Linked DNA regions of Homo sapiens. The protein of the gene in region 1 purifies or fractionates together with the protein of each later gene. This does not show direct contact. Each region holds a gene or a part of one and is shown on either strand. Other genes may lie near its edges. The genes, in order: NEDD1, CEP97 and TUBGCP6.

What was found.
Region 2: the proteins of NEDD1 (region 1) and CEP97 purify together in Homo sapiens (affinity purification with mass spectrometry; 2 studies listed by BioGRID and IntAct, with this or other methods). This does not show direct contact.
Region 3: the proteins of NEDD1 (region 1) and TUBGCP6 purify together in Homo sapiens (affinity purification with mass spectrometry; 3 studies listed by BioGRID and IntAct, with this or other methods). This does not show direct contact.

Annotation. Positions count from the first base shown.
Region 1 is NC_000012.12:96,941,670-96,945,323, reverse strand, and holds part of NEDD1 (protein NEDD1), read right to left. Parts: intron 2,748-3,654; coding exon 2,700-2,747; intron 1,765-2,699; coding exon 1,562-1,764; intron 686-1,561; coding exon 529-685; intron 1-528. UniProt on the Homo sapiens protein: Required for mitosis progression. Promotes the nucleation of microtubules from the spindle.
Region 2 is NC_000003.12:101,762,460-101,766,113, forward strand, and holds part of CEP97 (centrosomal protein of 97 kDa), read left to right. Parts: intron 1-25; coding exon 26-101; intron 102-2,387; coding exon 2,388-3,092; 3' UTR 3,093-3,654. UniProt on the Homo sapiens protein: Acts as a key negative regulator of ciliogenesis in collaboration with CCP110 by capping the mother centriole thereby preventing cilia formation. Required for recruitment of CCP110 to the centrosome.
Region 3 is NC_000022.11:50,238,383-50,242,036, reverse strand, and holds part of TUBGCP6 (gamma-tubulin complex component 6), read left to right. Parts: intron 1-1,669; coding exon 1,670-1,833; intron 1,834-3,654. UniProt on the Homo sapiens protein: Component of the gamma-tubulin ring complex (gTuRC) which mediates microtubule nucleation.

The DNA.
Region 1 (3,654 bases):
TACAGGAAAAGCCTTAGAGTTTAAGCTAATGCAATATATATCCACAGAAAACTTCAAGCAAAATATAGATATTTATATGAGAGTTGATTGTAAACAAAGAGTTGCTTTGTGTAGATAACTCTTAGAGTTAAACCAAATATTCCTTTAAATGTGATGAAGTTTGTATGGGTCTGCAGCACAAACTCTAAGGATAAGACTTTAATATGAAAGAGAAAAAGACATTTTCAGGTAGTTAACCAACCCTTTTCAAAGGGTCCTACATAATAATTCTATCTCTACCATATTAAAGACACATATTACACTGAAAATCTAATTCACACCAAAAGATCAAATCAACGTACCTGAATTTAACGATTCATATCCATTTCATTGTCTTTAGTAACACTCACACAACAGAAGTGTCCACAAACTTTAAACTCTTTGAACATTTTTAGTCTATGATTACTCTATTTCTCCTTTACAAGTTAAATAATGGGGATGATTTTTCAATCAAACACTTTCAAACATCAGGAAGTTTCATGTACTTACTTGGAGTTGAGGATCCATTGATTGGGGGTTCACATATCAACTGGGCTTCAATTTCATTCTCTGGCTTTTCAAATTTCTCAGAATTTCTTGTTTGGTTAGATGATGGAGAGGTATTTAGATTTCCACTTTCAGCACCAGATGTGACCAACTTTGCTAACTTTATATTTAAAATAAATAATGACTTTAATATACAATTTTTTTACTCATATTACCCATATAATTTTTGCCTACTTCTCTCTTTTGTCCCAGTATGTAGGTTAATAGAAATGAAGGAAAATAGGAAGAGATATAGAAGAAGAAAAAGAAAAAGAGAACTGGAGGCAAAATAAAGTAACACTTACTAATCAAAAACAATCTCAACAATAACATGAGGAAAAGCTCATTTACTAAGCACCTGCTGTTAAGTATCATTTAAAATAGAGATAACTGGCAAAACAAAAACAAAAACACCATGCATGTGGTAACCAGTCAATAATATTTGCAAAATAAATCAAAAGATGTTTTTGTACTTCTTACATGGTATCTTTTCAATATCATTCTAAACAATAAATACGAAAATACAGACATATTGTATACCCAACTGGCTTGGCCTTCCTGGTAATTTTTGATCATTTTGAACCCTTACATAAAAAATTAAATTCTGTATTATATATATATATTTTAGCAGAAAGTAACAATGATAAATTCCATTCTCAGCACCATCAGTTTGCTCTAATGATTTAACCACCAACTTGATGTTGTATACTGCAATGAAATACACTTTAAAAGGATTCAGGGATAAACTGTTCTTGCACACTTTATCAAGATATATCAAGTATCTCATCTTAGAAAAATACTGCAACTTTCCATCTGCTGTAACCTTCAACATATCCAAAGCGAGATTTCAAAGTATTCTGTAGTTATTAAAATCTGACATCAAGACTTATGAATAAGTGCATAGCAATGCTAATAATTAGGATACATGCACTGGCAGCCACCCACTTTCTACTGATAAACACATACAGTGAGTTCAGTATCATTTTCAGGCAAATACCTGTTTGAAGGAGTCTTTAGATTCCTGTTTTCCCATATATATTTTCTTAGACTCAGCTGTTAGATCACGGTTTTCATTTTCCTCTTTCCCTGGAGATCCCATAAAAACATTAAGAGGACTAGAATGCAATACTGAAGTACTTGAAGTTACTGGATTTTTTCTTGGAGGAAACACTGAGTTCAACTGCGGTAGAAAGTCAAAGCCTGGAAAAGGGAAAAACTGCATGTGCATATGGTGTCCTCCAATTTTGGACATTGAAGAAAAGCATTTAACATGATAGGCAGATTAACATGGAAGAAGATATGGATCTGCATTCTGAAGACTGGTTTGTTTCTCAGATACACCCCGCAATTGATGTGTATTTTTGGGCAAAAGTCTTAAACTTTCTGTGACTATTTCCCGATCTACAAATGTAAATGATGATATCCATCTCCCAGAGTGGTAAGGCTTCAAAGATATTATTTGTGAAAATACTTTGAAAACAGCAAAACACAATGTTTTAGTCAGTATTAGTTCTTGATAACTGAAAATTGTTAATTTGGTATATATCTGTGGTATGTATCTTGGAAGGCAATTTCTGAGATGGCTTCTAATGACCCCTGCCTTTGGCGTCGCTATCCTTGGGTAATCTCCTCCCTTTGAACGTGGCTTGGACCTAGTAACTTGCTTCTAACAAAAGTAATATGAAAAAGTAGTGAGATGTCACTACCAAGATTAAGGTTATTAACATAATCTTAAGAGAGGGCTTCCATTTTGGATGCCCTCTCGAATTCTCTTGTTCACCGGCTCTGAGGTAAACCAGCTGCCATGTTGTTGGCTGCCCCATATATAAAGAAGCTCATTGGCATGGAACTGATATCTCCAGCCAACAGCCATAGGAATGAGCTTGGAAACAGTTCCCTGCCCAGTTGAGTCTTAAGTTGAATGAAGCTCTGGTTGACATCCTGATTGAAGCAGGAAGATAGACTTGAAGGCAAAGGTACTCAGCCAAGTCATGCTCAGTTCTTAATACACAGAAATTATGAGACGATAAATGTTTATTTTTTTAAGCCTCAAAGTGTTGGAGAGATTTGTTACACAGCATAGATAATACAATTCACTTTTCATTTTCACGAAAATACTTCTAAGTAGTTCTTACCATCTCCTTTGCCTATGGACTCATCACTTCCCTTGTTAACTACAGCATCTATAACAAATTAGAAAATCAAATTTTAAAACTAGTGAAAAAGAAACCATATCAATTTAGGCTTCTTATTCATTCCCCAAAGAGTTCAGAGACTAACAATCTTAAAAAGCTAAATATGAGTGATGTTAAAGGTAGGAGAATACTGATTTAAATTTCTCTTTTACATTATTTTAGCTTCATTCACACTTTAGCAGCAAATATGAACAGATAATTCTATAGTACAGTCATTTAATGAGGCAGCAAGGTATAGTGTAACAAGCCCTGGTGTAGGGGGTAGGTTATGGAGAGCTATAATCCAGTTCTGCCTATACCACTTAATAGCTTTGTGACCTTGGACAAGTCTCAGATGCAATTAAGTTTCAGTTTCTGCATCTATAAAATGGGGATAATGTCCAGATAAGCTCACAAAATTGCTTTGAGGATCAATTGAAATAATACAAAAATATTTTGCAAAGCAGAACAAAGTTTTATTAGTGTTTATTTCCATGGTAGAATATGTATAAGATTATTTTAATCCTGTAATATTCATTTGCCAGTCCATAACAAAAATTGTAAAATTCAAATTTAACAGGTGAATTAAAAATGAGCCAAAGTCATTAACGAATTTACTAGAAATTCAAATGGCCAATAAACACACAACTATATCAGGAGAAATATCATCTATGTGCATGTGTGTATATGTTCCCAGTAATTGCACAGCATGTACATGCACACTTTTAGAAGTTATTAGCTTCCTTATCAATACTTTGGAACCATAATGAATCTGGAGGGCGTATGACTCAAATGCTAGTAACATTTTTAAACATAGCAAAAGTAATTAAAGAAAAAAGTAATTTATTCATTTGTCTTAAAAACTATTAAAGAGAATTTAATTTATAACTCAAACACTTCCAAAAAGCCCCTTTGT
Region 2 (3,654 bases), on another chromosome or scaffold:
AATAATGTGTTTTGAATTATTGTAGATTACGAAAAGAAAGAGATGAAGAACGTATTAAAAAATTTGTACAAGAAGAAGCTTTCAGATTCCTTTGGAACCAGGTAAACTCCCTCCTGCTGATTTACCTCATATATGATCAAATACAGATTCTATATTCATTGAGATAATCATAGAGTACTCAGGTGTATTAAGCACTCTTGTTCAAGGTTAAGGGTATGGCTTGTGTTCTTCGCCACTAACTGTGAACTAGGACAGTGAATTTTCTTGCATTTTATTTAATCTGAAGAAAAATATTCTGACAATTTTGACAAGAAAAACAAAATAGTATAAAGCAGGAGGAAAGTGGCTTAACTGAAGGCTGTTAGAGCTTTCCAATAGATACAACAACCCCAATTTGAAATTTCATGTAGCTATCGATCTGTCTTTTGGGAATATTTGAATGAATTGTGATTAAGATGGTATATGACTACAATATGCATGTCCTAAAAAGTATTCATAACTGTATAGGAGAGTATTTGAATCCTATAATAGCACACTTTAGGGACAGTTTAGGCAGTTGGTTTTACTAGCATTGTATCACATCAAATACTTCTTGATGATAATTTCTTGAAAATATTTTAATAAAATTTTCATTTCTTCTTTTTTATAGAAATGGGGTCTTGCCATATTGCCCAGGCCGGTCTCAAACTTCTGGGCTCAAGCAGTCTTCCCTCCTCAGCCTCCCAAAGTGAGCCACATCACCTGGCCAAATTTGTTATAATAGGATTTGACCTATAAAATGAAAAAATAATTATTGATTTGTAAAGTTTTGTAGTTACCAACAATAGAGGAATGGTTAAATTATAGAATAATAATACTGTGGAATACCATGGAATAGTTAAAAAAAATAAGGTAATGGTATTCACCAACATGGAAAGATCTCCAAAATAATACTGTTTAGTAAAAAAAAAAAACAGCACTAGCGCATTACAGCCTTGAACTCCTCAAGTGATCCTTCTGCTGCAACCTCCCAAGCAGCTGGGACTACAGGCACACACCAGTGTGCTCAGCTTCCCTGTATATTTGAAAATACGACCTAGAAAAAAGTCTGGAAGGATATGCATCAAGTTGCTGTCAGTAATTACCTTGGGCGGGGGGTCAAAGGGAAACTAAAAACTGTACATACTGCTTTCTTGTTTGCAGTTTTTACAGTAAAATTTTGGAATTTTTGTTATACTTTAGAAATTAGGGGTCATATTATCAAGAATTTGGTATGTTTTTAGGTATTTTAGAAAGTTGCATATACTATATTGTTAGCTAATACTTAAAAACTGTAATCTCTACCTGGGTATCTAAAATGAGACTTATTTTACAAGATCTACTTATTTCAAGGGCTCTAACCTGTCTTATTGAATAGATCTCATTATATCTTGAATACATTATTGACCCCTTATTCAGCTAGGCATGTGCTGTTGCGCATTATTGACCCCTTAGTCAGCTAGACATGTACTGTTGTGCTTCTTGCTGTTTTTCTTGTAGAAGCAAGAGAATTGCTTTGGCCCATTCCCACTCCTGGTGAGGGCCTTTTGTTACCAGGGACATGTACCATTTGTGCCAGTCTGGTTTTAGGCTTGGGATGCTATGGAAAAGATAAAGGGAGTCAGCAGTTTCTAGCTCCAGTTCTGCCATTTGCCAGCTTCATGACTGCTGGAAAAAAGAGCTCAAAGGAAAATTGTAAAATAGACAGGTGGGGTGTGGTGGCTTGTGCCCGTAATCCCAGCACTTGGGAGGCCAAGGCAGAAGGATTGCTTGAGCCCAGGAGTTCAAGACCATCCTGGGCAACAAAGCGAGACCTCATCTCTACAGAAAAAATTTTAAAAATTAGCCAGATGGACGGACACGGTGGCTCACGCCTGTAATCCTAGCACTTTGGGAGGCCAAGGTGGGCGGATCACCTGACGTCAGGAGTTTGAGACCAGCCTGACCAACATGGGGAAACCCTGTCTCTACTAAAAATAGAAAATTAGCCAGGTGTGATGGTGGGTGCCTGTAATCCCAGCTACTTGGGAAGCTGAGGCAGGAGAATTGCTTGAACCTGGGAGGTGGAGGTTGCGGTAAGCCGAGATTGTGCCATTGCACTCCAGCCTGGGTAACAAGAGCGAAACTCCATCTCAAAAAAAAAAAAAAAAATTAGGCAGACATGGTGGTGGGCACCTGGAGTCCTAGCTGGTTAGGAGGCAGAGGTGGGGTGGGAGGATCACTTGAGCCCAGGAGGTTGATGCTGCAGTGAGCCATGATTGTGCTGCTGCACTCCAGCCTGGGTGACAGAGCGAGACCCTGTCTCAAAAACAAACAAACAAAAACAACACTTTTTATTTTATAATACAACTGTATTCTCTGGTTTATAGGTAAGGTCTCTACAGGTTTGGCAACAGACAGTGGACCAGCGTCTAAGTTCCTGGCATACTGATGTTCCTCCTATATCAAGTACTCTTGTGCCATCGAAACATCCATTATTTACCCAAAGCCAGGAGTCCTCTTGTGATCAAAATGCTGATTGGTTTATTGCTTCTGATGTAGCTCCTCAAGAGAAATCATTACCAGAATTTCCAGACTCTGGTTTTCATTCCTCTCTAACAGAACAAGTTCATTCATTGCAGCATTCTTTGGATTTTGAGAAAAGTTCCACAGAAGGCAGTGAAAGCTCCATAATGGGGAATTCCATTGACACAGTCAGATATGGCAAAGAATCAGATTTAGGGGATGTTAGTGAAGAACATGGTGAATGGAATAAGGAAAGCTCAAATAACGAGCAGGACAATAGTCTGCTTGAACAGTATTTAACTTCAGTTCAACAGCTGGAAGATGCTGATGAGAGGACCAATTTTGATACAGAGACAAGAGATAGCAAACTTCACATTGCTTGTTTCCCAGTACAGTTAGATACATTGTCTGACGGTGCTTCTGTAGATGAGAGTCATGGCATATCTCCTCCTTTGCAAGGTGAAATTAGCCAGACACAAGAGAATTCTAAATTAAATGCAGAAGTTCAGGGGCAGCAGCCAGAATGTGATTCTACATTTCAGCTATTGCATGTTGGTGTTACTGTGTAGCATGTCTTTTGGGAGGCAGATATCCACTTAACTTTTCTTAAAAATACTTTCAGTTGCCTTTGCTTTTTTTTGGAGGGAAATACTCCCTACCCCTAATTTTGTTACTACTTATATAGAATTTGTATTCATGTCTTATATTTTTCAGATTCTAGATATTGAGCTGAGTTTTCATTTTGATTTTGTTAGCTTTTTACTTAGCTGTAAGGTACCAAACTATTTATATTGAAAGCTATATGCACTTTATTTCTTAACTGAATTGCATCAACAATGTTCCTGTTTCTTTCATGTACTCATTTACTTTCAAAAATAAGCTAGAATATATTAAAGAAAATAGAAAAAATTACCTTAAATATATAAATAAGAGAATTTTGGCCCTTCTGTGTCTGAGAAAATTAATTATATAGCAAGGAATGAAATTTGATAAAGCAAATATAAATGAGAAATATGAGGATTGTGAATTATTGAAATTTGCCAGTCTCCCTGGTGTAAAATGTTTTTTTAAAGCCTTTTTTCCTCCTTTCGGAGTCAAGGAAAGCCTTTCTATAAGCAAATTAAGGAAGAA
Region 3 (3,654 bases), on another chromosome or scaffold:
ACAGGCGTGAGCCCGGCCTGATTGTTCTTTTTTTTTTTTTTTTTTTTTTTTTTGAGATGGAGTCTTGTGTAGGGACCAGCCCTACAGGGTCTGTGGGTTTTTCTCTCCATATGCGGAGACCAGAGATGGTAGAAATAAAGACACAAGACAGAGATAGAAGAAAAAACAGCTGGGCCCGGGGGATCACTACCACCAACACGTGGAGACCAGTAGTGGCCCCAAATGCCAGGCTGCGCTGTTATTTATTGGATACAAGGCAAAAGGGGCAGGGTAAGGAGTGTGAGTCATCTCCAATGATAGGTAAGGTCACGTGGGTCACGTGTCAACTGGACAGGGGGCCCTTCCCTGTTTGGCAGCCGAAGCAGAGAGAGAGGAGACAGCTTACACCATTATTTCTGCATTTCAGAGACTTTTAGTACTTTCACTAATTTGCTACTGCTATCTAGAAGGCAGAGCCAGGTGTACAGGATGGAACATGAAAGTGGACTAGGAGTGTGACTGCTGAAGCACAGCATCACAGGGAGACGTTTAGGCCTCTGGATAACTGCGGGTGGGCCTGAGTCATGTCAGGCCCTCCACAAGAGGTGGTGGAGCAGAGTCTTCTCTAACTCCCCCAGGGAAAGGGAGACTCCCTTTCCTGGTCTGCTAAGTAGTGGGTGCTTTTCCTAGGCACTGACGCTACCGCTAGACCAAGGTCCGCTAGGTAATGGGCGTCTTCCCAGGTGCTGCCATTACCACTAGACTAAGGAGCCCTCTAGTGGCCCTGTCTGGGCATGACAGAAGGCTCACACTCTTGTCTTCTGGTCACTTCTCACCTTGCCCCTTCAGCTCCTGTCTCTGTATGGCCTGGTTTCTCGTAAGTTACAATTGTAGAGCGAAGATTATTATAATCTTGGAATAAAGAGCAATTGCTACAAACTAATGATTAATAACGTTCATATATAATCATATTTATGATCTATAGTGTAACTATTCTTGTTCTATATATTTTATTGTACTAGAACAGCTCGTGCCCTCGGTCTCTTGCCTCGGCACCTGGGTGGCTTGCTGCCCACAGTCTTGCTCTGTCGCCCAGACTGGAGTGTGGTGGCGCAATCTCGGCTCACTGCAACCTCCGCTTCCCGGGTTCAAGCAATTCTTCTGCCTCAGCCTCCCGAGTAGCTGGGACCACAGGTGCCCACCACCACGCCTGGCCGATTTTTATATTTTTAGTAGAGACGGGGTTTCACATGCTGGCCAGGCTGGTCTCAAACTCCTGACCTCAGGTGATCCACCTGCCTCAGCCTCCCATAGTGCTGGGATTACAGGCGTGAGCCACTGCGCCTGGCCCCGGTGTACAGTAGTGTTTTAATGTTGAGTGTGATTTTTTTAATTCTGGGTTCCCCACATTGGAATTTCCAGGTCTGAGGCATCTCAAAAAGTTTCACTCTAAGTTCCACTGAGGCTTATGTGTTACATGGAATTGGAAATTGGCAGCCTTGACGACTTATTTTGTTTAATTCCTTAAATGGCTCATTGGTGGGAAACATTGTATGGTACACATGCGCTTGAGAAAAACAGAAGAAACATTTTGTTAGGTCTTTGCATAAAGTTCCTGAAATTCTCATCGCCCTTGGATGAAACGTGGACACAGCAATAAGTGGCGGTTTGCCCTTCCCTGTGTCTCCAGGTCCCACCGAGTGTGGATCAGTGGGAAGACGAAGGATTCCAGTCAGCGTCCAACTTGACTCCTGATTCCCAGTCTGAGCCCAGCGTGACCCCAGACGTGGACCTGTGGGAAGCCGCACTTACCTATGAGGCCAGCAAGCGGAGGTGCTGGGAGCGAGTTGGCTGGTGTGTGCCCTTCTTTGCCTTGGCATGCAGTGCCCCTACCCCTGCATGAGCGTGGCCTTGGATGGGGTGTGTGGGGGGCGTTGTGTACTCAGGGGTCCAGGCAGTTGTGATGGGTTAGTAACCTAAGCTAGTGTCCAAAATTGACTGAGTCCTGGGAGTTAAGAGAGATGCAGAGGGGAAAGCACTAACAGCCTTTAAGGAGGCCTCACCTCCCCATCCAGTAACCAGATCACACCTGTCGGGCAGAACTCCCCTCCCTGTGCCAGTAACCAGATCACACCTGTCGGGCAGAGCTCCCCTCCCCGTGCCAGTAACCAGATCACACCTGCCAGGCAGAGCAGTTGGGGCAGCTAAGTTATGTCCTTAAGAGCAAGAGAGCTGCCTGGCAGGCTGTGTGATTAGTGCCAGGAAGAAATGCTCACTGGGCATGGGGTGCTGATGAAGGAGCCTTTTCCATTCATGTCTAGAGGAATTGGGGTGCTGATGAACACGGAACCTTTTCCGTCCGTGTCTGGAGGAGTTGGGAGGGGCAGTCTGGGTGATGAGAAGCTCCAGCTGCAGCAGCTTTTTCCTGACTGGTACCAGCAGCTTGCTCTCTGGATGCGGTAGCCACTCACTCCCTGGCTCACCTGGGTCCAGAGGCCTCTGCACTCAGCACCTCTCAGAGTCTTTAATGTGGTGGTATCTTTTGATAACTCCCAGAACCCAGGCAGAGAATATGCATTTCGCCTGGGCGCGGTGGCTCACATCTGTAATCCCAGCACTTTGGGAGGCTGAGGCGGGCAGATCACTTGAAGTCAGGATTTTGAGACTGGCCTGGGCAACATGGTGAAACCCCGTCTCTACTAAAAATACAAAAATTAGCTGGGCGTGGTGGTGCTCGCTTATAATCCCAGCTACTCAGGAGGTTGAGGCACAAGAATCACTTGAACCTGGGAGGTGGAGTTTGCAGTGAGCCGAGATTGCACCACTGCACTCCAGCCTGGGTGACAGAGTGAGATTGTCTCAAAAACAAAAAACAAACAAACAAAAAAACACGCACTTCCCCAAATGTTTGGCCATGGAATGCCCCGTTCACATCCAGTCCACTGGTGATCCTGTGGGTATCGGTTTGGGGAGTGTTGGGTGAAAGGGTCAGGGCTGGCTGGGAGCTGAGTGCTCTGGGATGCAGTGGCTGGGCTCTGGCAGCCTGGACAGGAGCATGTGCCCCCGGGTGGGCGAGCTTTCCTGACATCATGAAGATTCCCTCAGGGTTGGCTGTCTCCCTGCTTCCCAGCACGGTGGTGGTGGCTTTATCCTGACTGCCAGGGCCTTCCTGCTGTGTCACTTCCTGCTGGTGCATCAGTCAAAGCAAATCTCATGGTCCTGCTCTCTGCCAATCCCTCACACGTTTAAAAACTGGCCTTTGGGAGGCTGAGGCGGGTGGATCACGAGGTCAGGAGATCGAGACCATCCTGGCTAACACAGTGAAACCCCGTCTCTACTAAAAATACAAAAAATTAGCCAGGCGTGGTGGCGGGTGCCTGTGGTCCCAGCTACTGGGGAGGCTGAGGCAGGAGAATGGCGTGAACCCGGGAGGCGGAGTTTGCAGTGAGCGGATATTGCGCCACTGCACTCCAGCCTGGGTGACAGAGCGAGACTCCGTCTCAAAAAAAAAAACAAAAAAAAAAACTGGCCCTACAAGTTATTGCTTTATTCTGTACATGTCTGCTAATAGTATTTTTTTCTGTTTTTTTTTTGTATTTATTTATTTATTGAGGCGGAGTCTTGTTCTGTTGCCCAGGCTGGAGTGCAGTGGCACCATCTCCAGCTCACTGCAAC